Linked DNA regions of Homo sapiens: regions 2 and 3 are each linked to region 1. Evidence: fine-mapped expression QTL. A gene starts in region 1. Each other region holds a variant in brackets. All regions are shown on one strand. Distances are between the middles of the regions.

Region 1 (10,877 bases):
GTGCATTTTTATTATGTAAAAATTATACCTTCATGAAGTTGACTTTCAAAAGTTGGAAAAAAAATAAAAGCTTAAGAACACTATACCATCTTTTTAAAATTAAAGAGAAAAAAATTCAAAATGTTAGCAGTGCTTCCAATCTCCCAGTGCTTATTTCTCTCCCAGAGCGGTCTTGCGAGGAGGTCGTGAGAAGAGTCCTCCTCCCACCGCCATTTCTGTGGCCGGGTGGTCCCACCAAAGGCAGCTCAGTGACTCTCCTGGCTGGTCTGACCCAGGCCAGCCTCGCAGACCCAGTGGTAGGGCCTCTGGCAGACGTCGTCATTCCACCTGCCGTCTGGATGGAAGTGAGCACAGTCCTCGCCTCCACCCAGCCCGTGCCCCTGCCAGTCGTCTGGCTGGCCTGGCTTCCAGTTCCTGAGAGGAAAAGACAACAGCAAGCTAGGAAGGGTAGATGGAGTAGAATTCAGTTCAGGGGAGGAGAGGCTGCCAGTCAGATCCCTGGGGGAAACGCTGACGGAGGACATTGGCACAGAAAGCCAGGGTGCACTCACTGGAAGCCGGTCGCATAGTCTGTTCCATCCACCCACTTCCAGGCTCCTTCAGGGTCACTGAGGCCCATCCAGGTGTATGCGGAGCCTAGATATTTCTGGACAAAATTCTGCGGTGACAGAAGGGCAGTGGTGACTTCTTCCCATCCCAGCCAACTCCTTAAACTAGTGATTCTCAACTTTAGCTCTTCGTTAAATCAACTGAGGAGTTTGGAGATGTTTCTCTGGATGCTCAGGCCTATTAAATCTCTGAGGGTGTGGCACAGATGACAGTCATTCTGGAAGCTCCCAGATGATTCCAATGTGCGGCCAAGCTTAAGAACCATTTCCCTAAATGGGACATGTCTTAGGAACTGAGTACCAGAAGCCCTCACCTGCTCCTCCCTGGAGTTGATGACCACCAGGTGGGCGTTCTTCAGCTGGCAGTACTTCTCAGCCTCGGCCCAGGACATCCCAGAGTGAGAGAACCAGTAGCAGCTGTCTTGGTGCTCCACCCAGTTGACAGGGCAGCAGGTCCCTTCAGTGGAGGCTGATTGGGGAGAAATAGGATAGGGTGGAGAGGCTGAGGCTCTGCCCAGTGGGCCATGGGCAGAAAAGTAGGGCCAGGTACTCCCCATACCTTCCTCACCATTGTTGTTGAGAGTAGCCACCTGGCAGGTCAGTTTCTTCAGGTCTTGCACCAGCTGCTGGACTCGCAGGAGCATTTCAGAATGAACTGGGACACACACAGATGGGCAGTGGGGACAGTGGCCTAGGTGTGCCTTCTGCGTAGTGTGTTCCTGGAGCTCAGATACCCCTGCACAGGGCCAAGCCAGGGAATGTTCCTTCCCGCCCCCACCCACCCCCTACATCATGGCCAGGTACAGCCATCAAATCTGCTTTGGATTCCTCTGCCCCTGTTTCTCCAGCCTGCTCTCCAGAGAAAGCATGCTGCCTTTCTTTCTTTCTTTCTTTTTTTTTTTTTTTTTTTTGAGACGGAGTTTCACTCTTGCTGCCCAGGCTGGAGTGCAATGGCGCGATCTCGGCTCACGGCTACCTCCGCCTCCCGTGTTCAAGCAATTCTCCTGCCTCAGCCTCCCTAGTAGCTGAGATTACAGGCGCCCACCACCACACCCAGCTATTTTTTGTATTTTTTTTAGTAGAGACGGGGTTTCACCATGTCGATCAGGCTGCTCTCGAACTCCTGACCTCGTGATCCACCCGCCTCGGCCTCCCAAACTGCTGGGATTACAGGCGTGAACCACTGCGCCCGGCCTGCATGCTGCCTTTCAAGCTGCTGGCTGAAGGGGAGGGCAGTTCAGCACCAGGAGTCTGTTCCCACCTCCACTGTGTCTGAGCGCCTAGCCCCCCACACCCATACTCGGAGGGTCTCTCACCTGCCTGCCGTTCCTGCTTGAAACCCTCCACCTCAGCTTTCAGAGATGCTATCGTTTCTTCCAAGCTGCTGCCTGGAGGACACGGAGACTTGGCTTAGGGGTCAACTTCCTCCTCCCTGGCCTGGCCCCAGCCCAGAGCCCCATCCAAACCAGACTCACCCTGGGAAGTCAGTGCCTGGATCTCCGCCACAGTGTTTGAGGTGAAGTTGCTAAAATCTGTTCTCAGGGTCACCAGGTCCCTCTGAAATTTGGAATCTAAACAGGTGGATGGGAAGGTCAGTGCTGGGATTCATCAGGTCCTCTGTACCAGCACCGAGCAGGGCCCTCCATAAGCATTGCCTTATTGGGTCCTCACGGCAACCCAGTGGGGCAGGCACTATTATTGTTCAATATTGCCGATGAGGAAACTAAGCCTCAGAGAGGTGAAGTAATTTGAGTACATAACCCAACTACTCAGTGACAAAGCCAGCAGCCATCCTGACTATGGGTCCGTCAACTCTCTCCATCACTACCCCCACCACCGTCCCCATCAATCACTCCATCAGTGCCCCCCCACCATTCCCATCAATCACTCCATCAGTGCCCCCATCACCATTCCCATCAATCACTCCATCAGTGCTCCGACCACTGTTCTCATCAATCACTCCATCAGTGCCCCCCACTATTCCCATCAGTCACCCCATCAGTGCTCCCATCACCATTCCCATCGATCACTGCATCAGTGCCCCCCACCATTCCCAACAATCACTCCATCAGTGACCCCCACCACCATTCCCATCAATCACCCCATCAGTGACCCCCCACCGTTCCTATCAATCACTCCATCAGTGCCCCCCCACCATTCCCATCAATGACTCCATCAGTGACCCCCAACCATTCCCATCAATCACTCCATCAATGCCCCCCACCATTCCCATAAATCACTCCGTCTGTGCCCCCACCACCGTCCCCATCAATCACTCCATCAGTGCCCCCCTACCGTTACCATCAATCACTCCATCAGTGCCCTCTCCTCCATTCCCATCAATCACTCCATCAGTGCCCCATCAGTGCTTCAGTGGCTCTGTTGTGACCCCCATGACTGTTGGTAGCACTGCCCTCACCATGCCCCATTGTTATCTCCACAGCTGCCCCCAACACTGTGCCCTGCATTGCTCCTACTGTGGACCTCACCATCGCCCCACCACTGCCCTACTGTAGCACCCCATTATTTATCTTCTACCCCATTATTTCTCTCTTCCCTGTCCACCCCTGTGACCCTCACTTTGGAATCCAACCACACAGATGATGACCAGCAGCAGGAGGCCGAGGCCCAGGGACAGCAGGAGATGGCAGGGCCCAGAGCAGAGACGCTGCAGGAGGGACTGGAGAGGAAGTGGCCCTGCAAGAGGAGAGAGTGTCAGGATGAGGAGGGTCCAGACACCGGAGACGGGAGAAGGAGAGGGCCCAGGGAGCTGTCTAGTGAGGAGGGCTGGGCACAGGGGACTCCAGGGGAGGGTTGGACAAGGAGGATTTTGGGGTGGGGGATGCCCAGGCCTTTGACTTCAGGGACCAGCACAAGTCCTCAGTCACACAGGCCCCTCACACCCCTGGGGACCCACGTGATAGCGATATGAGGGGTCCCATGGTCAGAGCTGGGGGCAGGGGCAGGAGGACACAGGGAGAGCTGGGGGCAGCCAGCCCTTCATGGGCTTATGCTCACCTACCTGCTGGACAATCAGGTTCACAAATGAGTTTCCTTCCAAACCCAACTACTTATCTTTCCCTCCACCAATGCGCAGCTCTCATCCCCACCCCACAGAGCATCAGAAGCTGGGTCCACTGTGATCCTCCCTGTCCCAGTCTTTCTAGAGACCTTGCATCCTCTTCACACTAGGCCCGTCAGAGGCTGGGGCCTGACCTCCTCAGAGTTAGGACCCACCAGTGCGCGTGGTGGAGGTACAGAAATGATAGGAGAAATCCTTCTAAACATATAAAGAGGGCATTTTAGGAGAGTTTCCCCTTTCCTCTTACCATTTTTAAACCCCTGGACTTTCACCTTATTCTCCAAGTACTGGAAGTTTTCATACGTCCTTGTCATGCTTGGGCCAACACGGCTCTGAGGTTGTCACAGCTGAAATGGAGGCAGGGCCGGCGCCCAGTCTGGGGTGGAGCTGGGGAATAGGAGGTTGGGACTAAGTTGGAGCCAAGGGCAGGGCTGACGTTGAGTTGGGAGATGAGGCTCAGGTTGAGAATGAGCCCAGGGTTAAGACGGAAATGAGCCTGGGTTTGCAGTCGAGTTAGAATTGGGGTCGAGTTGAGTTTGGGAGTGAAACTGGAGGGTAACGTTGGAGCTAAACGCATTGCTAGGACTACCCAGTGGGCCAGTTAATCAGGCAGGACTGGAGGTTGTATCTCATGCTAGGATTGGGGTCAGTATGCACGTTGGAGCCATGGATGGAATTGGGGTTAACTTTGGTGGTGAATTTGGAAACAGAATAGAGTCGAGGTTCAATTTTGGCTTTGGGCTGGTGTTAAAATTCAAGTTGATTCTGGGGTTGGGGTTGAAGTAGGAGCTGGGTGGGGGGCGACAGGTGCGGTGGCTCACGCCTATAAATCCCAGCACTTTGGGAGACCGAAGCAGACAGATCACTTTAGGTCAGGAGTTTGAGACCGGCCTGGCCAACATGGTGAAACCCCATCTCTACTAAAAATACAAAAATTAGCTGGGTGTGGTGGTGTGCGCCTGTAATCCCAGCTACTTGGGAGGCTGAGGCAGGAGAATCACTTGAACCCAGGAGGCAGAGGTGGCAGTGAGCCGAGGTTGTGCCGTTGCACTCCAGCCTGGACGACACAGTGAGACTCAGTCTCAAAAAAAAAGAAAATGTAGAAGCTGGGGTTAGTATTGGGATTAGGGCATGGCTGGGCTGAGATGAAGATAAGGCTGGAAATGGGCCACCAATGAGGCTGAGTCTGAGTCTTAGTTTATTTTTATTTTTATTTATTTATTTTTTGAGATGGAATTTCGTTCTTGTCGCCCAGGCTGTTGTGCAACGAGGCCGTCTCGGCTCACTGCAACCTCTGCCTCCTGGGTTCACAAGATTCTCCTGCCTCAGCTCCCGGAGTCTTAGTTTATGACAGGGGATTGTGGCTGCCGTAACCCAATCTAGAATCCAGTGAAGGGAACAGAGTCTCAAATCTCCACGTAGTAATTAAACCCCACACTGCCGCCTTATATTTATTTTCATTTAGTCCCACCCAAGACCCAAAGTCCCCCTCTCCCTGCTTCCTCTGACATCCCCTGTCCCCTGGGTCTCACCGGCACCGGCAGCACCATTACCTGTGGGAGGTCTGGAGGGTGTGATTCCCACGTTGGTTGTGCTGCAAGGACCAGAGGTGGGACGTCACTCAGAGTTGGGAGCGCTGTGTCCTGGAGAGCTGGGGTAGAGGTGACTGGAGTCCTGCTGGTCTTGGGTCTGAAATCCCAGGAGCCCTATCATCTGGGACATCCCATCTCCTCAACTTTAGACAGTAAATGAGAATGAACAGGGATTAGAACACACAGAGACCATGTGTGGGTGGGGAGAGTTGGGTTTGAGGCCAGCTCTGTTCTCCTCCTCCAGGCCATGCCTACTTCCTTTCCTCTTCTCGGAGCTTCCTCATTTTTACCATCTGGGAGCAGGGCTGGATCAGAGGTACAATCTGCTGTTGCTCCTCTACCCTACACTTCCTTTCACTTCCTGCCTCTACATTTCCCAGAATTGTTGGGTCTCCATCATCGCACCTCTGATCCTAGAGAAGCCCAGTCTGTTCTCTTGCTCAATCCTGGCCTGAGTCCCTGGCATCAGCATCCTCTGGGTCCCAGTCATTCGGCTGCTCAGCTGTGGCCTCGCTCGCCTCACTCCACTCGGAAGGAGGGAAGGGGGTGCCAGAGAATAGAACTTCTTGGCCCTAATAGGACGGGAGAAGCCAAGGAAAAGAGCAAATTTTATTGAGTAATCTGTGATAGGATTATGCCAGACATTTACCTTCCACAACCATTCCCCCCAAGCACCTGGGGAGGCATTTTGGATGACGGACTAAAGGCTCAGAGCCCAAGATCACTCACAGCTTGTAAGGAGACAGTTTGGCACCCTGCTCTGGCTCTCAGCACAGGCGCTGTCTTCATGAACAGGATTCCATTTCATCCCATGATCCCTGCTCAACCCCTAAGGGAGCTGCCCTGAATCCACGCGCACATCCCTTTCAGTAGGAAGGAAACTGAGTATCTTACAAGGTGGAGAAGGAGAAGAAATACATTTTAGGTTATATTTTGTATGTACATGGGGTTGTGTTCTGCTATGTGCTTTTTTTTTTTTTTTTTGGAGTTAACAAGCTATCAGGAACATTTCTCCACATCAGTTTATAAAATGTACTTGATCTACCTGCACCTCATTTCATCATAGGCACCGTAATTTATTTATTTAGCATTTCTCTATTGACAGAAATAAATCAGAAATTTAAGTTGTTTCTTTTTCTTTTCTTTTTTATTTTATTTATTTATTTATTTTTTTGAGACAGAGTCTCACTCTGTTGCCCAGGCTGGAGTGCAGTGACACAATCTCGGCTACTGCATCTCCTGGGTTTAAGCGATTCTCCTGCCTCAGCCTCCCGAGTAGCCGAGATTACAGGTCCCGCCACCACACCCAGCTAATTCTTGTATTTTTAGTAGAGAGGGGTTTCACCATATTGGCCAGGCTGGTCTTGACCTCCTGACCTCACATGATCTGCCCGCCTCAGCCTCCCAAAGTGCAGGGATTACAGGCGCGAGCCACCGCACCCGGCCAGGTCGTTGCCAGTTTTGTTTTTATTTGGTATTCGGTATTTTGATTAGTATATGTCGCAGGTTCGGTTTTTGGAAGCCAAGGTTGAGGCTGAATTTGGGGTACAAGCTATTTATTAGGGATTAGCACTTCGAAAAGGAAAGTGGATGAAATGGTGCTGGGCAGAGGGAGAAGCCCAGCACTTTGGAGAGCTTCAACCAAACCAACAGGGAGCTCTGGGTTCAAACAATGCCACCCCCGGGAGCTGTCCAGCATTGGACTGCCACAGGGTCCTGTAGAGCACCAGCTCCTTCGGTCACTGGCAGTCAGCCCTGACATGGGTGTGACCTCAGGAAGCAGCTGTCTGCAGGTTACACTCCCCACAGTGGGTCACCACATCCTTCCTAGAAGGGGGACCTGGGTAGCTCTCTGTGTGTCTACCACAGTCTTGCAGTGTATTCACATATTAATTTGGAGATAATCAACATTTTGACATTGTTGAATCTTCCATGAAAAGAACATGATATTTCTCCATTCACTAACTTTTTTTTTTCAGTCTGGTTCAGTGGGTTTGAAGCTTCTTTTTTTTTTTTTAGTTCTGGGATACATGTGCAGAATGTGCAGGTTTGTTACGTAGGTATACGTGTGCCATGGTGGTTTGCTGCACCTATCAACCCATCACCTAGGTTTTAAGGCCCGCATACATTAGGTATTTGTCCTAATGCTCTCCCTCCCCTTGCCGCCCACCCCCTGACAGACCCTGGTGTGTGATGTTCCCCTCCCTGTATCCATGTGTTCTCATTGTTCAGCTCCCGGTTATGAGTGAGAACATGCGGTGTTTGGTGTTCTGTTCCTGTGTTACTTTGCTGAGAATGATGGTTTCCAGCTTCATCTATGTCCCTGCAAAGGACATGAACTCATTCTTTTTTATGGCTGCATAGTATTCCATGGTGTATATGTGCCACAATTTCCTTATCCAGTCTATCATTGATGGGCATTTGGGTTGGTTCCAAGTCTTTCCTATTGTAAATAGTTCTGCAATAAACATACGTCCAATCACTCTTATACACATTTATTCATCCATTTGAGTACTTATTGAGTCTACGGCATGCCAAGCACTTTCCTTCCCAAGAGGCAGAGTTCAGGAGTTCAAAAGTAAACAGACAAAAAAGTCCTGCCTTCATAGAGCTTACCTTCTAGTGGGTCACCAATAAACAAAATAAATGAGTAAAATATACATAAGCCACATGGCAATAGTGCTTTGCGGAAAAAGAGCAGGGATATGAGATAGGGTTGATTTTTAATGTCCCTCAAGAATAGGGCATGTATTAGTCCATTCTCACATTGCTCTAAATAAATACCTGAGACTCGGTAATTTATCAAGGAAAGGGGTTTAATTGCTTCGTAGTTCTGCAGGCTGTGCAGGAAGCATGGTGCCGGCCTCTGCTCAGTTTCTGGGGAGGCCTCAGGAAACTTATGATCATGGTGGAAGATGAAGGGGGAGCAGGTGCCTCACATGGTAAGAACAGGAGCAAGAGAAAAGACAGGGGATCAGATTTTAAATGACCAGATCTCACGGCTGTGCGCAGTGGCTCACGCCTGTAATCCCAGCACTTTGGATGGCCAAGGCGGGCGGATCATGAGGTCAGGAGATCGAGACCATCCTGGCTAACACAGTGAAACCCTGTCTCTACTAAAAATACAAAAAATTAGCCAGGCGGGGTAGCGGGCACCTGTAGTCCCAGCTACTGGGGAGGCTGAGGCAGGAGAATGGCATGAACCCAGAAGGCGGAGCTTGCAGTGAGCCGAGATCGCGCCACTGCACTCCAGCCTGGGCAACAGAGCAAGACTCCATCAAAAAAAAAAAAAAAAAAAAAAAGACCAGATCTCACGAGAACTCCCTCACTATCATGAGAACAGCACCAAGGAGATGGTGCTAACCATTCATGAGAAATCCATCCCATAATCCAATCACCTCCTACCAGGCCCCACCTCCAACATCGGGGATTACAATTCAAGATGAGATTTGGGCGGGGACACAGATCCAAACCATACCAGAGTGTCAAGAAAGGCCTCACTGGGAAGGTGATATCTGAGCAAAGTTTGAAGGAGGTAAGGAAGCAAGTCACAAGGGGCTCTGGCAGGAAGAGTGATGCAGGGAGCGGGCAGAGCAAGTGCAAAGGCCCTGAGGTGGGAGAACGTCTGGTGTGTATGAGGATCATCCATTTGACAGACTTGCCAGAGATTTTATAGAGAAGTGAGTCAGGGAGGAGAAGAGTAGATGAGCGATGGGGGAAAATGTGAGCCTTGTTGGCTGTTATTAAGGACTTGTTTTTACTCTGAGTCAGAGATGCAGACTTTGAAGGGGTTGGAGCAGAGGAATGACATAACCTGACATATGTTAACTGTAACGGTGTGGCTTTTGTGTTGTGAATTTGATGAAACAAGCTGGAAACAGAGAGTCTAGGTAAGAAGCTGCTGTCATATCCAGGTGAGAAATGAGGTGGTCAGAAGTGTTGTGATTCTGGATATATTGTGAAGGTAGAGCAGACAGAATTTCGCTGATAAATTGCTTGCGGGTTTCATGAAAAAAATAGTTCTTCTAGTCCCCAAAATAAACTAAACATTGAGCATTTTCTATAAATTGCTGACTCCCTAGAAAAACAACTCTAACCCTGATGTTTGCAATGCTGACGCCTGGGTAGGTCATGACCTTTCGTGCATATGAAAATCATGTGAGAAAAGCGCTGGGTTTTGCCATCATGAGTAGACTGATAAAAACGTGCTCACAATGGTAATCTTGGAGAATTTCCCTTTCAATACTTGTTGTGGTTTTAGTTTGGCAAGCCTGTCCTTCTAAAGCCTGATTTATTTGCCAGGTCTTGGCAAGCAATCTTCTTTTCTTTCCTAAATGCTTCTGTCCCTGAGACCCCTTTCACTGTTGACAATGATCGTTTCCCTCTTCCGCCACATTTTCCGCAAATTCTTACCCTCTCCTAGAACCGCTACTGGTCAGGACTTTTTTTTTTTTTTTTTAAGCTAGGAACAAGAGAAAGCACGCTCGTGCCACCAGTTCTCCATGAGATTCTTCCAGACCATACAGAAAGACAAGTGATTGGAACATATGAAGGTTGAAAGGGAAAGAGAACTGTCATTATTGGTAAATGACATGATTGTCTACTTTAAAAATCCAAGAGAAACAGCCCCTCCTGGGCTCAAGTGATCCTCCCGCCTCAGCCTCCTGAATAGCTAGGACTACAGGCATGCACCACCACACTAGTTAAACATTTTACTGTGTAGAGAACAGATCTCACTATTGTTCCCCAGCCTAGTCTCAAACTCCTGGCCTCAAGCAATCCTCCCACCTCAGCCTCCCAAGGTGCTGGGATTACAGGTGTGAGCCATCATGCCCAGCCTGTGTTCTCTTCGATAATTTTTATAGTTTCAGCTTTGATGTGTGTCTATGATCATTATGAATTAGATTTTTTCATATATATACAGTTGTTCCAGCACCATTTATTGAAAATACTTTTCTCCATTTAATTATTTCTACCTATATAGTTGATAGAATTCATCAGAGACGTCATCTGAAACTGGATATTTTCTTTGTTGAAAGATTTTAAATTGTGAATTTATTTGAATTCAGGAAAGTCTGTTCAGATTTCCTATTGCGTTTTTAGTTTTGGTAATGTGTATCTTTCAAGTAATTTTTCCATTTTATTCTATTTATGGGCAAATTTATTGGCAAAAAGTTGTTCATATTATCCTTTTGATGTATGTAGGAGCTGTATTTATATTTTCTTTCTTTTTTTTTTTTTTGAGATGGAGTCTCACTTGTCGCCCAGGCTGGAATGCAGTGGCGCCATCTCGGCTCACTGCAAGCTCTGCCTCCCGGGTTCACGCCATTCTCCTGCCTCAGCCTCCCGAGTAGCTGGGACTATAGGCGCCCGCCGCCACGCCTGGCTAATTTTTTTTTTTTGTATTTTTAGTAGAGACAGGGTTTCACCATGTTAGCCAGGATGGTCTCGATCTCCTGACCTTGTGATCTGCCCGCTTCGGCCCCCCAAAGTGCTGGGATTACAGGCGTGAGCCACTGCGCCCGGCCTTATATTTTCTTTCATTCTTAACACTGGCAATTTGGGGGTTTGTTTGTTTGTTTTTGAGACAGAGTC
Region 2 (5,826 bases), 29 kb after region 1:
ACCTGATCAGTAAAGCAAAATATGTTCGTACTCACAGTATGCTGTAAAGTACTAACAGAGCCTGATGTAATGCAAACAATACATATATTCTGGCCCCTGTATCATATGGCTTAACTACTGTGGCATTAAAATACTTTGAAGTTCAGCCAGACGCGGTGGTTCACGCCTGTAATCCCACCACTTTGGGAGGCGGAGGTGGGCGGATCATGAGGTCAGGAGTTCCAGACCAGCCTGGCTAAGACGGTGAAACCCCGTCTCTACTAAAAATACAAAAAAATTAGCCGGGCATGGTGGCACGTGCCTGTAATCCCAGCACTTTGGGAGGCCGAGGCAGGAGAATGGCGTGAACCCAGAAGGCGGAGCTTGCAGTGAGCCGAGATCGTGCCACTGCACTCCAGCTTGGGCGACAGAGCGAGACTCCATCTCAAAAAAAAAAAAAAAATGGATAAAATAAGCCTGATCCAGCCTCCCAGAGCAGGCCTTCCAAGGGCTTCCTCCTGCCTGTGGGAAGCGTGGCCTCACCTGCTCCTCCCAGGAGTTGATGACCACCAGGTGTGCGTTCTCCAGCTGGCAGTACTTCTCCGCCTCAGCCCAGGCCTTCCCGGAGTGAGAGAACCAGTAGCAGCTGCCTTGGTGCTCCACCCAGTTGACGGGGCAGCAGGTCCTTTGGGAGCCTGAGGGGACAGGGGGCAGGGAGATGAGATCCAGCCGGAGGGGCAGGCACACTGGGCCTGGAGACGGCCCCACCCCTACCGTTGCTGTGGAGGAGCTCCATCTGGCAGGCCACGAAGCGCAGGTCCACGGGGAAGTGCTTCAGATGGAAGAGCAGGGCATCGTGATCTAGGACAGACAGGCTGAAAGTGCTGCCGGCAGGTGTGGTCCCCACCTGCTAGGCTCCAGCCTGTGGCTGGGGAAGCATATACACCCACAGACACGTACACCATGCATAGACCACACCACACACCATACCACACACACACCACAGACATGTACACCACACATAGACCACACCACACACAGATCCATCACACACACACAAACACACCAAGAGACACACCACACACATCACATGCGTACACACACATATACCATACCGCACACACACAGACTCATCTCACACACACCACCACACATGCATACACACACAACACACACATATACACCACACTACACACCACACACAGATCCATGACATATCACACCACACATACGGAGAGAGACACAGATACACATGCTTGCAGGCACACACACGCACGCACGCACACGTGCACACTACACACACCGCACACGTACACACTACACACACCGCACACGTACACATGCACGCACATGCGCACACACCCCGGAGGCTCTCTGACCTGCTTTCAGGTCCTGCTGCTGTTTCTCCAGCTTGGCTCCTAGGGATGTGATCTTGTCACCCACGCTGCCTCCTGGAAGCGGAAAGCCAGCTGTTTCCCCGCTGAGCCTCCCTCCGTCCTCATGCTGCTGGGGGACCGGGGGCCAGCGCCTCGTCCTGGGCGATGCAGGCGTCCACCTCCTGGCTTCCTGGACCACACCCAGGCTCCCTGCACTGCCACAGTGGCTCAGGCCACTCTCCTGCTTCAGTCCCTTCAATGGGTCCCCATTTTCTCAAAATAAAGCCTCGCTCTGTCAGCACGGCTCACCTGCGTGGCCGGGCCCCTCCCCACCTCTCTCTGGCCACCCCTTACCTGCCTGCCCCTCCGATGGGCCTGCCACACTCGATTTGCTCACAGGCCCAAGACATGGTGCCTTCCTCACCTCCGGGTGTCGCAGATCCAACCTCTCCACCTGGCACTAACCTCGTCCGTCCCCACCTGCCTCCCTCCTATACATCCCCCAGGGCCCCTGGACGCCTTGCCCAGCCTGCACCCCCACGGCACCCCACACAGCCCTGTTGCAGACTCGGCACTGAGCCCAGCAAACCTGTGCGGATAAATGAGAACCCAGCCGTCCAGCCCCTCACCGTGGGTGCTGATTGCCTGGACCTCCGTCAGGGTGCTCGAGGAGAAGTTGCTGAAAGCTTCCTTCAGGCTCCGCAGCTCGGCTTGCAGCTGTGCACCTTGTCAGGTGGTAGTGGGGGCAGGATGAGGCAGAGGGGCCGTGTCCCCATCACTGTCCATGTGACTGGCCCCTCAATGTCCCCGCATTTGCCCCAGCTTGTGCTCCACCCCGCCTCCATCCCTTCCCCTCCCATCGCCCCGATCGCTGCCCGCCACTGCCCATGTCTCTTTCCCTACCCCTTGCCCATCCCTGCTGGCCCCCGTGACCCTCACTTTGGGACCCAGTCACACAGATGACCACCAGCAGCAGGATGTTGAAGCTCAGGGCAAGCAGACTGAAGCAGACCATGGAGCAGAGACGCTGTGCCAGGGGCTGGGCAGGAGGTGGCCCTGTGGGAGAGGGGCATCAGGAGCCGGCAGCCTGGGTGTGGGGAGCCGGAGGGTAAAGACAGGGCACCGAAGCCTGAGGAGGCATAACCTGGGCGGGGGGATTGGTTGGGGCCATGGGGGGGGGTCATCATAGGCTTTGACCCCAGCATTTGAGCATTACACACACACTCTTACACACTCGCACCCATATTACCATGTATAAATATACACACGCAGCTAATCTGGTGCACACACACCCATGCACACGACTCAGGATATTCACATCAGCTGTGTGCAAAGCCCGGATCCTGGAGCTGGGGGACTGGGAGACGCACAGGGGGCGGGGGGGCAGACCCGGCCCTGCCTAGGCACACATCCTGAGAAGGGGGATCTGTGAATGGTTTTCCTCCCATCCAGCCAGTGGCAGAGGCCTCCAGATCACCTCGGGCCTTAGTCTCAGCTCTTCTAAGGCTCCTGTCCCCTCAGATTGGAGACTCCAGAAGCTGGGCCCTGTGTTCTTCCTAAAATCCATACTGGAACAGTCCCTCCCCTGCCAAAATTCCATTGAGATCCTTAAATCTGGGTCATTCCACCATAGCCCACTCTCCAAGCACAACCCTCCAGGTCCCACCTGTTGTCCTCATCCCCCACCACGCAAGGCCTCCTCCCCAGCGCCCTTTGCCCTCGCTTCCCTAGAAACCTCGTTCCACACTAAATTTGCTCCCCTCAGCCCGAGGTCATCTCACAGGTACCTCTCCTGCCCCTTGATCCATCTGCACCCTGACAGCACTGACACACACATTCACATGCCCTCACAAACTCACACACACTCACACACTCACACATTGCTCACTTCACTCAAAAACACACATTTGCACACACTCATGACCACGCTCTGCTGTACCCACTCTCACATGTGCATATGCATGCTAATGCACACATTCATACTCCCTCCCACACACACACACCTGACACACCCACACACGTACACTCACACACCCACGTCTTCCTGCACACAGAGCTGGGCTCCCTCTCTGCTGCCTCCAGACCCAGAGCAGCTCCAGTTGTCCCAGCCCTGAGCTCCTCTCTTTGCAGCATCCACCTGCAAACAGAACACCTTCTAGGCCTTGGACCCTGACTCTGTGGACTTCCTTGTCTTCTCATTCCTATCACCCCCC[G/A]ACCCAGCAGGACCACATCCTGGGGAGGCTCAGTCAGGGGCCCAGAATCTTCCTCCCCAGGTCACTTCCTGCCACTGTCCTGAGTCAGACACTGCCCCTGTAAGTGACTGTCCATAACTCTTCATCTTTTTCACACCAGTGACTTCCACCTTCCCCACTGCAGCCACACTCAGGACCCCATTTGACCCAGGGAGGCCTCTGACACCTCCACTGCCCACTCCCGCTCTGAGCACAGCCCCACCCTCCCTCTCACTGCCCCCACCCCTTCCTCCAAGGCCTTTGCATTCCTCTCCATCCAGAAGCGCTCCATGACCACGGTGTTCCCCACCAAGCTGGCCCTCCATGGCTGAGTCCCTGACTGCTGTCTTCAGCACCCTCCACTCAGAGGGTCCTGTCCTGCTTCCCAGTCCGACTTATCAACTCCCAATGCTGGGTCAGCCCAGCAACGTGTCTGTATATCCACCCTGAAACCAGACTGCCCACAGGGTAGCCCAGCTGTGCCTCCAGGTAGCTCTGAGATCATGCACCAGCATTCAATTTCTCCATGCTTCCATTTTCTCGTGTGTAAAATGGAGATCACAGTCGTAGCTACCCGATTGGATTGCTCGGATAATTAGATGAGTTAAAATATGTAATGTGCTTCTTAGGCAAAAGTTTGAACATAAAAGACAGGGTCTGCCCAAGATGGGAAGAGTTCTTCTCTCCCCAGAAACAATCAAAACAAAAACAGACAACTATAGAACATGGCAGCTTTCAAGACTCTGGACATCAGGCAAGGAGGAGTAAAGATCCCTGAGGGATAAGAAGCAAACAACAGGAACCCTCCGATCACCCCAGCTTACTGTTTGGAGAGAGTCTGCAGGTTACAGGCCAGGAAAGGGAAGTCCAGGCAGAGCCCAAGAGACTCCCCACGTTGAGGAGATGGAGCTGAGAGTCCGAGGAGACCAAAACAATTAAGAGTTCAAACGATCAAACTGACTCTAAGTTGCTTAACTGCATCCCGGAGCAAAGCTCAAGAACATTTAGAGGAATACAAAAATATCCAGCACCCAACAAGGTGAAATTGACAATGTCTGGCAGCCAATCAAAGATTACAAGGCATGCAATGAAACGGGAAAACACAATGCATAACGAGGAGGTTCATAAATATCAAAAGAGATCCAGAACTGACACGGATGCTAGAATTAGCAGGCAAGGATGGTAAAACAGATATTATAGCCATATCCCATTATGTTCAAAAAATTAAGTAGAATTGTGGAGGATATTTAAGAGTCCCCAGGTGAACTTCTAGAGATAAAAACTACAATGTCTGAAATGAAAAAACACACTGGCCAGGCGCCGTGGCTCACGCCTGGAATCCCAGCACTGTGGGAGGCCAAGGCGGGCAGATCATGAGGTCAGGAGATCGACACCATCCTGGCTAACATGGTGAAACCCCATCTCTACTAAAAATACAAAAAATTAGCCAGACGTGGTGGCAGGCGCCTGTAGTCCCAGCTACTCGGGAGGCTGAGGCAGGAGAATGGCATGAACCCGGGAGGCAGAGCTTGCAGTGAGCCAAGATCGCGCCACTGCACTCCGGCCTGGGCAACAGAGCGAGACTCCGCCTCCAAAAAAAAAAAAAAGAAAAGAAAGAAAAGAAAAAACACACTGGATGGAAATAATGGAAGATGAGAAATGCGTAAGAAAAATTTAGGGCCAGGCACTGTGGATCACATCTGTAATCCCAGCACTTTGGGAGGTCGACACGGGGGGAATCACTTGAGCCCAGGAGCTCAAGACTAGTCTGGGCAGCATGGCAAAACCCCTCTACATGGCAAAACCGTCTCTACAAAAAAAAATTTTTAATTAGCCAGGTGTGGTGCCACATGCCTATAGTCCCAGCTACCTGGGAGGCTGAAGTGGAAGGATCGCCTGAGCCCAGGAGGTGGAGGCCACAGTGAGTTGTGACAAGCTACTGCATTCCAGCCTGGGCAACAGAGTGAGATGAGAGAGAGAGAGGGGAGGGGAAGCGAGGGAAGGAAAGGAGGGGAGGGGAGGGGGAGGGGAAGGGGAAAATTTTAGTTAACTTAATGAACAGCAATAACTCTATAAAATGAAACACTGGGAGAAAAAAGAATTAAAAAATGGAAAGAGAATGAGTGAGCTGTGGGACCCTTAATACATGCATAATTGAAATCTTTAAAAGAAAAAGGGGGTAGCAGAAAAAAATCAAGTGCTGAGACAAGTGGAAGATGGGCCCCGGTGAGCAGCTGATC
Region 3 (10,877 bases), 20 kb after region 1:
ATCTTTTGTGACCCAGCCGTTCACCACCAGTTCCTGCCCAGATGAAAACTGTACACCCACCGCCTCTTACAGCCTCGCTCTGCCATGCAGTCCTCTTGGGCAGGGTCCTTCCTAGCTGGCTCAAGCCTGACATCTATAGAGTCGCCTCGGCTCACGGGTTCTCTGACATTATGCTGCCAGACTACCAAGTGCAGCCTGATTGACTGGTGGACGGGGCAACTCCAGCCCAGATGTTTGTCTTCAGACTTCTCCTGTCAAGAAGCAGAGATGAGTCTGTTTCTTCACAACTGCCACAAAACTCCTGAGGACACAGCCATAGCCTCCACTAAAACTCTTCTTGCCCCTCTCACGTAGCATTCCACAGTGGTCCCAGTGGTGTCTGCATCTTATAAGGCTACCATCAGGCCTGGCAGGGAGATGCTCGTGTTATCCCCTGGCAGACAACCACTGTCTCTACAAACAGTTCCCTTGCAACTCTATTATCTCACTGATAGAGGTTTAAAGAAGCATTCCCCTTCCTGTGGAGGGAAAAAGTGTTGAATCCCTTGCTACACATCTAAGAATTCCCTTGAGGCCGGGCGCGGTGGCTCACGCCTGTAATCCCAGCACTTTGGGAGGCCGAGGCAGGTGGATCACTTGAGGTCAGGAGTTCGAGACCAGCGTGGCCAACATGGTGAAACCCTGTCTGTACTAAAAACACAAAAAGGAGCCAGGCATGATGGCGGGTGCCCGTAATCCCAGCTACTCAGGAGGCAAAGGTAGGAGAATCACTTGAACCCAAGAGGTGGAGGTTGCAGTGAGCCGAGATCGCGCTACTGCACTCCAGCCTGGGTGACAGAGCAAGACTCCATCTCAAAAAATAAAAAAACAAAAAAGAATTGCTTTGAAACAATCCCCTTAAATCTCCATTCATCTTTTGCGTAGCCTGGGAAGAGTGATGGTGATTATGTTGCCTCTCTTAGTTAGTCCTGCCTACATGCATCCAGCTTTTCTCTGTTTTAAATGGGCACTTACCAATGATCATTCTCAACTTTGGGAATCTAGCCAAATCTCTATAACAACAGGAAAAGTGTCATTTAACCTCCCTATTTCTTGTGGTCATGTCACTTTTCTCAGTTCCTTAATTGGGCTTGCCAAGATGTTGTTTACCATATTAGTCTTTTTGGAAAGGGGTTTTTGTTAAGAGGATAACATGACAAGCTACAGACTTGGAGAGAATATTTGCAAACCACCTATCCAACAAAGGGTTAGTACCTAGAATATATAATGAATTATCAAAACTTGACAGTGAAAAAACAAACAATCTCAATTAGAAAATGGGCAGAAACCTGGGCACAGTGGCTCACGCCTGTAATCCCAGCACGTTGGGAGGTCGAGGCAGGCGGATCACCTGAAGTCAGGAGTTCGAGACCAGCCTGGCCAACATAGCAAACCCCATCTGTACTAAAATACAAAAATTAGCCGGGCGTGGTGGCGAGCACCTGTAATCCCAGCTACTCGGGAGGCTGAGGCAGGAGAAACACTTGACCCTGGGAGGTAGAGGTTGTGGTGAGCCGAGATCGCGCCACTGCACTCCAGCCTGGGTGACAAAGCGAGACTTTGTCTCAAAAAAAAAGAAAGAAAGAAAGAAAATGGGCAGACGACATGAAGAGATGTTTTACCAAAGAGGATAAGCAGATGGAAAATAAGCACATGAACGAATGTACAACCTCATTAGCTGCCACAGAAACGCAAATTAGAACCACAGTAATGTATCACTATATATCTATCCAAAGAGCTAAAACTTTAAAATACTGACAACAACCAGATACAGGTGAGGAAGTGGGCAAACTGGATCATTTATACATTGCTGGTGGGAATATAAAATGGTACAACCACTCTGGAAAACAGTTTGGCAGTTTCTTTTAAAAGTAATCATGCACCCACTATATGACCCAGAAATTGCACTCAGGCATTTCTCCCAGAGAAATAAAAATGTGTGTTCACACAAAAACTTGCACATGAATATTCATAGCAGCCGTATTTGCAACAGCCAAAGACTGGAAACAACCCAGATGTCCTTCAATGAGTAAATGGCTAAACGAACTGTGGTACGTCTATCTATACCATAGAATAGCGCTCAGCAACAGAAAGAAATGAACTGTTGACGCATGCAACAACTTGTAAAAATCTCGAGGGAATTACGTTGAGTTTGAAAGTCAATTCCATGGCCGGGTCCAGCGGCTCATGCCTGTAATCCCAGCACTTTGGGAGGCCGAGGCAGGTGGATCACGAGGTCAGGAGTTCAAGACCAGCCTGTCCAAGATGGTGAAACCCCATCTCTACTAAAAACACAAAAATTAGCCAGGCGTGGTGGTGGGTGACTGTAATCCCAGCTATTCAGGAGGCTGAGGCAGAGAATTGTTTGAACCCGGGAGGTGGAGGTTGCAGTGAGCCAACATCGTGCCACTGCACTCCAGCCTGGGCGACAAGAGCAAGGCCAATTTATCACTTTTAGAGAGGCGATGTGATCATTGCTGAACCATCACCCAACATTTCTAGTGGGCGGGAAAGCCCCCTCCTGCCCACTCATGCCTGTCTAACTACCTGTAACAACCCTGGAAACCCAGCATTCTGGGAGGCCGAGGCAGATGGATCGCTTGAGCACAGGAGTTTGAGACCAGGAGGCTCAAACTGGTCTTGAACCAGAAGGCCTTCTGGTCTTGAACCCAGTTTAGTGAGACCCTATCATTATAAAAAATTTAAAAATTAGCCAGGCGTGGTGGTATGCACCTATAGTCCCAGTTACTTGGGAGGCTGAAGTGGGAGGATCACTTGAGCCCAGGTGTTTGAGGCTGCAGAGAGCCATGATCATGCCACTGCACTCCAGCCTGGGTGACAGAGCGAGACTTTGTCTCAAAAAAAAAAAAAAAATATATATATATATATATGTGTGTGTGTGTGTGTGTATACACATATATATGTATATGTACACATACAATTTATATATATATGTATATATAGCATTTTCTAGATTCTGTGATGTTTCTGGTAGCTCTCTGCTTTTGAAATTTGTGACTTTTTAAATTTAAATAAATGGTAATTTTTATGCTTAATTTTATATCCATAATTTTGTAATTGTTCTTACAGAGGGCTCCCCAAAATTGTGTACACCTCAGGCCCCATAAAACTTGGAATCACTTCTCTGGCTCTAGGAAAAAGTACACCAAGTACAACTAAAATACTGATTATACGACTGGTTTGCACGTCTGGAAAAATTATATTGTCAAGCTTTTTACAGTTCAGGAAGACTCAGCAATAAGTTAAAAGAATATGAGGCAAATTTTTTTAATGGAATACTGACTACTTTCAGAAGAAATGAGAGTTGTGCAAGAAAGGGAATGTAATCAGATTATAGTAGTTGACTCAGCAGTAACCATATTGACACAGATACAACTGATACAAATTTTAAAGTAGTATTTAAATATAAATTGTAGACTACATTGGAAGATTTTACCTCGTTTACATGATAGCGACTAAATAATGTCTACAACTCATACGAAGATGAAATATCAGTTTGTGTGTCTTACTTAGAACTGCAGATGTCAGTACTAGAAGAAACAGCTAGAATCACTGAAAGCAGTTTCTCCAGGCAGCAAGAGGAGCTAAAGGGGGCAGGTCAAGTAACCTAGAGCCCTGTAAAACTTCTAGTTTTATAGACTTTATACTTCTAGTTTTATAGACTTTATAAAATTTCTACTTTTCTATAAAAATTCTAGTCCTATAAAACTTTAGAGTGTATTATTACTTCCATAATTTATTTTTTGAGAAAAGATCTCGCTGTCTTACCCAGGCTGCAGTGTAGTGACACAGTCACAGCTCACTGCAGCTTCAATTTCCTGGGCTCAAACTATCCCCTCATCTCAGCCTCCCAAGTAGCTGGGACTGCAGGGATGCACCACCACATCCAGCTGGGGTGTGTGTGTGTGTGTGTGCATGTTGTACAGACTGGGTTTCGCCATATTGCCCAGGCTAGTCTCAAACTCCTGAGCTCAGGCGACCCACCACCTCAGCCTCTCAAAATGCTAAGATTATAGGCATGAGCCATTGCACCCAGCCTATTTTCACGGTTTTTTAAATTTAATCCCAATCGTGTACATTTTGAAGGGGCAATCCTAGAAAATTTTTCAACTGAAAAGTGGGAAGTCTTGACCTATCCCAAGCTTATGAGCAAAAAAATTACTTTGAAACATTCTATGTGAAAACAAAGAAACAAAAGTGGTAACTACTTGCCCCCTACAGAGAATGATTACATAATGCATGGTACATCCCTACTTTGGAATTCTCTACAGCTGCTAAATCCAAGGAGGTAAAACCTGCCAGGTAATGGCATAGATTAGACTGGTGTCCACGAGACACTGTGAAGCGGAACAGGCACTATGTAATGACATAATATTGCATCTACTCATGTACACAGGAAGGGCTCTGGCAGGGGACACAGGAAAGAGTTGACTCTGGGGAGACGGAGGAGGACTGAGAGGACACTCGTGTGCGTGCGTGTGTGTGTGTCATTTAAAACATTTTTTTACTAATAGAATGTATTACTTCTGTACTTTAAAAATTTAAAAATATGGGGCCGGGCCCCGTGGCTCATGCCTATAATCCCAGCACTTTGGAAGGCAGAGGCGGGCGGATCACCCGAGGTCAGGAGTTCAAGATCAGCCTGGCCAACATGGCGAAACGCTGTTTCTACTAAAAATACAAAAATTAGCTGGGTGTGGTGGCGCATGCCTGTAATCCCAGCTACTCGGGAGGCTGAGGCAGAAGAATCGCTTGAACCCGGGAGGTGGAGGTTGCAGTGAGCCAAGACCGCACCATTGCACTCCAGCCTGGGCAACACAGCAAGACTCCAACTTAAATAAATAATATAACCGCTGAATAGTCTTTTTAAGGTCAGTTTCAGAATGTTCTTGGAGCGGGAAGTTTGCCCACTGTGGAGATTGTTGGTGACACCCTGTGTTGAAGATATGTCTAGATCCGCTTGGGGTCAAAAAGACAGAGCCACGGTGGTGAGAAAGTGACTTACCCATCCTCCTCCTCGTCGTGACCATTTTCCTTGAAGGCTGAGAGTGGAGCTGGGGTATGCCCTGCGACCCGGTCTGGGGAGAACCCAACCGCAGAGAAAGATGTTTCCTTTGGGAGCCCTGGTGTGTCCGGAATTGGTGGGTTCTTGGTCTCACTGACTTCAAGAATGAAGCCGCGGACCCTCGCGGTGAGTGTTACAGTTCTTAAAGGCGGCGTGTCTGGAGTTTGTTCCTTCTGATGTTCAGATGTCTTCAGAGTTTCTTCCTTCTGGTAGGTTCATGGTCTCACTGGCTCAGGAGTGAAGCTGCGGAACTTCGTGGTGAGTGTTACAGCTCTTAAGGCAGTGTGGACCCAAAGAGTGAGCAGCAGCAAGATTTATTGCAAAGAGCGAAAGAACAAAGCTTCCACAGTGTGGCAGGGGACCCGAGTGGGTTGCCGCTGCTGGCTGGGGCAGCCTGCTTTTATTCTCTTATCTGGCCTGATTGGTGCGTTTACAATCCCTGAGCTAGGCACAAAGGTTCTCGACTTCCCGACCAGAGTAGCTAGATACAGAGTGTCAATTGGTGCATTCACAAACCCTGAGCTAGACACAGGGTGCTGATTGGTGTGTTTACAAACCTTGAGCTAGATACAGAGTGCCAATTGGTGCATTTACAATCCCTTAGCTAGACATAAAGGTTCTTCAAGTCCCCACCAGACTCAGGAGCCCCGCTGGCTTCACCCCATGGATCCTGCACTGGGGCCGCAGGTGGAGCTGCCTGCCAGTCCCGCGCCCTGCGCCCGCACTCCTCAGCCCTTGGGTGGTCGATGGCACTGAGCGCGCCCTGGAGCAGGGGGCGGCGCTGGTCGGGGAGGCTCGGGCCGCACAGGAGCCCACGGAGCGGGGGTCGGGGAGGCTCAGGCATGGCGGGCTGCGGGTCCCAAGCCCTGCCCCGCGGGAAGGCAGCTAAGGCGTGGCGAGAAATTGAGCACAGCAGCTGCTGGCTCAGGTGCTAAGCCCATCACTGCCCGCGGCCGGTGGGGCAGGCCGGCCACTCCGAGTGCGGGGTCCGCCGAGTCCACGCCCACCCGGAAATCGCGCTGGCCCGCAAGCGCCGCTCCCTCCACACCTCCCTGCAAGCTGAGGGAGCCGGCTCCGGCCTTGGCCAGCCCGGAAAGGGGCTCCCACAGTGCAGCGGCGGGATGAAGGGCTCCTCAAGTGCCGCCAAAGTGGGAGCCCAGGCAGAGGAGGCGCCGAGAGCGAGCGAGGGCTGTGAGGACTGCCAGCACGCTGTCACCTCTCACTGGGAGCCAGGCGGACCCTCCAGCCACAGCCCGGCCGACCCCTTTCCCACCAGTGCCAGCCACTAAGCCTGTCTGCTCCAAGCCCCTTTCCCGTTTCCCTGACCAATGTCCCTCGGGATTAGGGACCAAGGAGCAGCTGTCTAGGATGCGCGCCTTGCGTCTTCCATGCCCTCCCCTCTCCCTCCTCTTTGCATGCTGTTTCTCAGTTCCCAATAACCAGGCCACACAGAGATTCAAGCATTTGTTTCTTCTTTCCTACGCCATTGAAGAGGCTGACGATTATAATAATTACAATGAATTACAGAAGGAGGTGGGATCTCAGTCCTCCAGGGTCAGGGACTCTTAAACTACCTCCTTTCTCTCTTTGCTCAGCTCTTCCCCATACCCCTGTCTCAGTGTTTCTTCCTTTCCTCAAAATCCTCAACAGAGAAGCCAGAGCTGGGCAGGTGTGGGGTATGGGTTAGCCAGAGGTGTGCTGGGGTCAGGCCACCTCGCCGGTGGCATTCCGCCTTTTCTCACACACCCAGCGGTACACCTGCAGGCAGAAGTCATCGTTCCAGCGGCCATCCGGCTGGACTTCAACACAGTCTTCACTTCCACCCAGCTCGTGCCCGTGCCAATTATCTGGCTGAGTGACAGCCCAGTTCCTAAGGAGGCAAGAGAAAACTCGGACTCTGCCACGGTGGTGAGAAAGCGACTTACCCATCCTCCTCCTCTTCATGACCATTTTCCTTGAAGGCCGAGAGTGGAGCTGGGGTGTGCCCTGCTACCCAGTCTGGGGAGAACCCAACCGCAGAGAAAGATGTTTCCTATGCCCAGTCCCAGCAACCCTCACCCCCAGCCCAGAAGAGCACAGCTTTGGAGGGGTTGGAGTCTGGGGAGGAGAGGATTGGGGAATTTGGTCCCTGAGGGACGAGTCAGGGTAGCTTGGAGTGAAAGGCCAGGGGGCTGTCCCCAGAGAAATCTAACAAGGAGATGAGGGAAGAGGCCACTTACTTGTAGTTGTGCCTATAGTCTGTGCCATCCACCCATTTCCAAGAGCCATCACTGTCCGTGAGACCTATCCAGGTATTGAAGGGGTTCGTGTGTTGTACAATGAATTTCTGGAAACACAGGCAAACAGGAAATTTCTAGTCTCTTGTGCCTTTCTCCTCCCTCCATGCAGGCATGGAACTGTGGCCCCTCTCAGCCTTCCCCAGCCTGA[T/G]CTGCCCTCAGGCTGAAGCACCAGCTCCCGACAAGACTGCTTCCTAGCTTTTTCTTCCGTCACTCTAGCTACTGTTCAGTGCACATTTGCTAGGCTAGACTTCGTGCTGTCTGTGCAAAGATGATCTCATTTAATCCTCAGAAGCTCTCTAAGATGGGCACTGCAGTGACCACATTTTGCAGGGAGTTGCAGAGCCAGAGAGCCAATCCTGTACCTGAGTTAGTGGCCACTGTCCCCTGTTCACAGCCCTGGGCCGGTGTCCCCCTTCATTCCCAGCTTATGGCTCTACCCAAGTTCCGGTTCTCTCCCTGTCTTCTGCCCACAGCCTCGAACTCCTGGGATCCCGACCCTGGTCCCTGCTCTTACTGCCCCCCAGACCCCAGACCCACTGAAGATCTCAGTTTCACTGGCCTCTCAAGTACATTGGCCCCTGGTAGCTCTCGCTTCTATGTGTAGCTGTCATTTCCTGAGATCTGTCAGGCCCGGGAGCTTCTAAGCTTGGACCCACTGCCCAGGGCCCCATTATGATCTAGCTACGTGGAGTCTGACAATCGGGGCAAAATAGGAAGACACCGGGGTGTGAGGAAGCAGCCCGGACAGCCAGTTGCCAGGGGCTTGGGTGAAAGTGGACTTCGAGCCTGCAGATAGCTCCCCGGGACCCACGCGCACCCACACTCCCAGCACGGTAGCCCCTCCAAGTGGCTTTCTCTTACACATACAGCTGTTCCTGGGGACCTAGGTCCCGTGGTTCGGTAGGGTAGGAGGGGAAGGTGTGGTCACCTGGTTTTGTGGAGAAAGTGGAGAGGGATGGATCCGTTGAGCAACGTGCACACTTAACAATTCCCTTTGACAGCCTGGAATTTTCCTTCCAACAGTATTTGAAGGACAATTGCCTAATTCTACTCTCACTCTCTAGAAAAACAACTAAGGTTGCAGTTATTCACCTCTTCCGATTGAGCATCAGAAACTGGGGCATCCCTAAATTCTGGAATCCCACAAATAGGACAAAGTCCCATGCATGAAGGGGCAGCCCTCAGAGGCAGGTGAGGCTGCTCCCCAAATTCAGAGGAGTCAACGGAGTTGGAGAGAAAGTGCCTGGAGACAACACACACTATGTGCTGCTACCTGCTGCCAGCCCTCCCTCCCATCACCACGAGAAACAGAACAACTGAGCAGACTACAAATTAGCAGTATCCAGCCCGCCGTGTTAAAGACTGAGAGGAGGAATCAAATCATGCCAGATGATCAGAGAAGACAGTCCGGGAGAATTCATTCCCCCTTTCCTGGGTGAACCATAGGAAAGAAAGCACTGTGCCCATTCACAAAAGTAATGGAGAAAATCATCATGGAACTTATGCCCCCAAAAAGAAAGAGGAAGATGAGGCAGATGAAAAATGAACTGTGATATCAAAAAGAGAGGTGAAAAATAGACTTTGAAAAGAAGCCTTGTTTCGGAATATGAGGGGATGTTGGAGAACAGTTTCTTTTTTATTATTATTATACTTTAAGTTTTAGGGTACATGTGCACAACGTGCAGGTTTGTTACATATGTATACATGTGCCATGTTGGTGTGCTGCACCCATTAACTCGTCATTTAACATTAGGTATATCTCCTAATGCTCTCCCTCCCCGCTCCCAAGAACAGTTTCTTTACATGCTTCAAAAATTTTAAAAAGAATGACATAAAACATGAAAGAAGATATAAAAAAAAAAGAGAACATGATAAGGAAAGGAAATGAAAAGTTTGAGCTACATACTAAAAAAAAAAGCCCAGGTGTGGTGGCTCACGCCTGTAATCCCAGCACTATGGGAGGCCAAGGCAGGTGAATCACCTGAGATCGGGAATTGGAGACCAGCCTGACCAACACGGAGAAACCTCATCTCCACTAAAAATACAAAATTAGCCAGGCGTGTTGGCGCATGCCTGTAATCCCAGCTACTTGGGAGGCTGAGGCAGGAGAATCGCTTGAACCTGGGAGGCGGAGGTTGTAGTGAGCCAAGATCGTGCCATTGCACTCCAGCCTGGTCAAAAAGAGCAAAACTCTGTCTTAAAAAAAAAAAAAAAAAAAAAAGCCAGGCGTAGTGGCTCATGCCTGTAATCCTAGCACTTTGGGAAGGCCAGGCGGGAGGATCACCTGAGGTCAGGAGTTCAAGACCAGCCTGGCCAACATGGTGAAACCTTGTCTCTACTAAAAATATAAATATTAGCCAGGCATGGTGGCAGGCACCTGTAATCCTAGCTACTCGGGAGACTGAGGCAGGAGAATTGCTTGAACCGGGAGGCAGAGCTTGCAATGAGTCGAGATCGTGTCACTGCACTCCAGCCTGGGCGAAAGAGCAAGTCTCCATTTCAAAAAATAAAAATAAACAAAAAATTTCAGATAAAACACTTGAGGGGCCGGGCGTGGTGGCTCACACCTGTAATCCCAGCACTTCAGGAGGCCAAGGCGGGCGGATCACGAGGTCAGGAGTTCAAGACCAGCCTGACCAACATGGTGAAACCCTGTCTCTACTAAAAAATATAAAAGTTAGCCAGGCACGATGGCGGGTGCCTGTAATCTCAGCTACTCGGGATACTAAGACAGGAGAATTGCTTGAACCTGGGAGGCAGAGGTTGCAGTGAGCCAAGATCGCGCCATTGCACTCCAGCCTGGGCGACAGAGCAAGACTCCATCTCAAAAAAAAAAAAAATTTTTTTTTTTTTTCAGATACAACACTTAAGGAACCTAGGAAAGGAAAGACTCAGACACATGGGAATAAGAGGTATCCTGGTCTCCTCACCTTTCCTATGGAAGTTATACAAACTTTTAGTTTTCAAAGCCAATAATTTTCAGCCTATTATTTAAAGTTATACAAGTAATCACTGGAATAACTCTAAATAAACTACATAGTTTCCAAAATACCATAAAGAAGAAAACAAAAAGAACACCTCTCACATAGCAATTGTAAGAAAATTAAGAAGCATGTAAAGCAGAAAAAAGAAAGGACTAGGGTTAAACATATCTATTAGAATGTAAATGAGACACTCACCTATTAAAAGAAAAGGTACTTATTAGATTTTTAAACATCAAAAACAAAACCTGCCAGGTGCAGTTTTTGGATTACAGTGGCTCAGACACCTGTAATCCCAATATTTTGGGAGGCCCAGGCGGGCGAATCGCTTGAGGCCAGGGGTTCAAGACCAGCCTGGGCAACATGGCACAACACCATTTCTACTAAAAATGCAAAAAACTACCCAGGTATGGTGGTGTGCACCTGTAGTCCCAGCTACTTGGGAGGCTGAGGTGGGAGAATCCGTTGAGCCCGGGAGGCACAGGTTACAGT

The links.
Region 2: its variant is fine-mapped to the expression of CLEC10A in prostate (GTEx, PIP above 0.99).
Region 3: its variant is fine-mapped to the expression of CLEC10A in whole blood (TOPMed, PIP above 0.99).

Annotation. Positions count from the first base shown.
Region 1 is chr17:7,074,809-7,085,685 of GRCh38, forward strand. It overlaps CLEC10A (C-type lectin domain containing 10A), which reads right to left and starts at 5,443. Exons shown (of 9, transcript NM_001330070.2): 1 at 5,244-5,443; 2 at 3,938-4,077; 3 at 3,189-3,305; 4 at 2,084-2,179; 5 at 1,925-1,996; 6 at 1,177-1,263; 7 at 923-1,077; 8 at 552-658; 9 at 1-414. The coding sequence starts at 4,004. The coding sequence ends at 246.
Region 2 is chr17:7,106,478-7,112,303 of GRCh38, forward strand. ASGR2 (asialoglycoprotein receptor 2) reads right to left here. Exons shown (of 9, transcript NM_001201352.2): 3 at 2,295-2,411; 4 at 1,985-2,080; 5 at 1,359-1,430; 6 at 754-840; 7 at 523-674. Among named protein-coding and RNA genes, the nearest start is that of ASGR2, 5.4 kb to the right of the region's middle. The variant G/A (reference allele first, on the strand shown) is at 3,569.
Region 3 is chr17:7,094,746-7,105,622 of GRCh38, forward strand. ASGR2 (asialoglycoprotein receptor 2) reads right to left here. Exons shown (of 9, transcript NM_001201352.2): 8 at 7,345-7,451; 9 at 6,581-6,995. The coding sequence ends at 6,830. Among named protein-coding and RNA genes, the nearest start is that of ASGR2, 15 kb to the right of the region's middle. RefSeq lists an enhancer at 53-152. The variant T/G (reference allele first, on the strand shown) is at 7,553.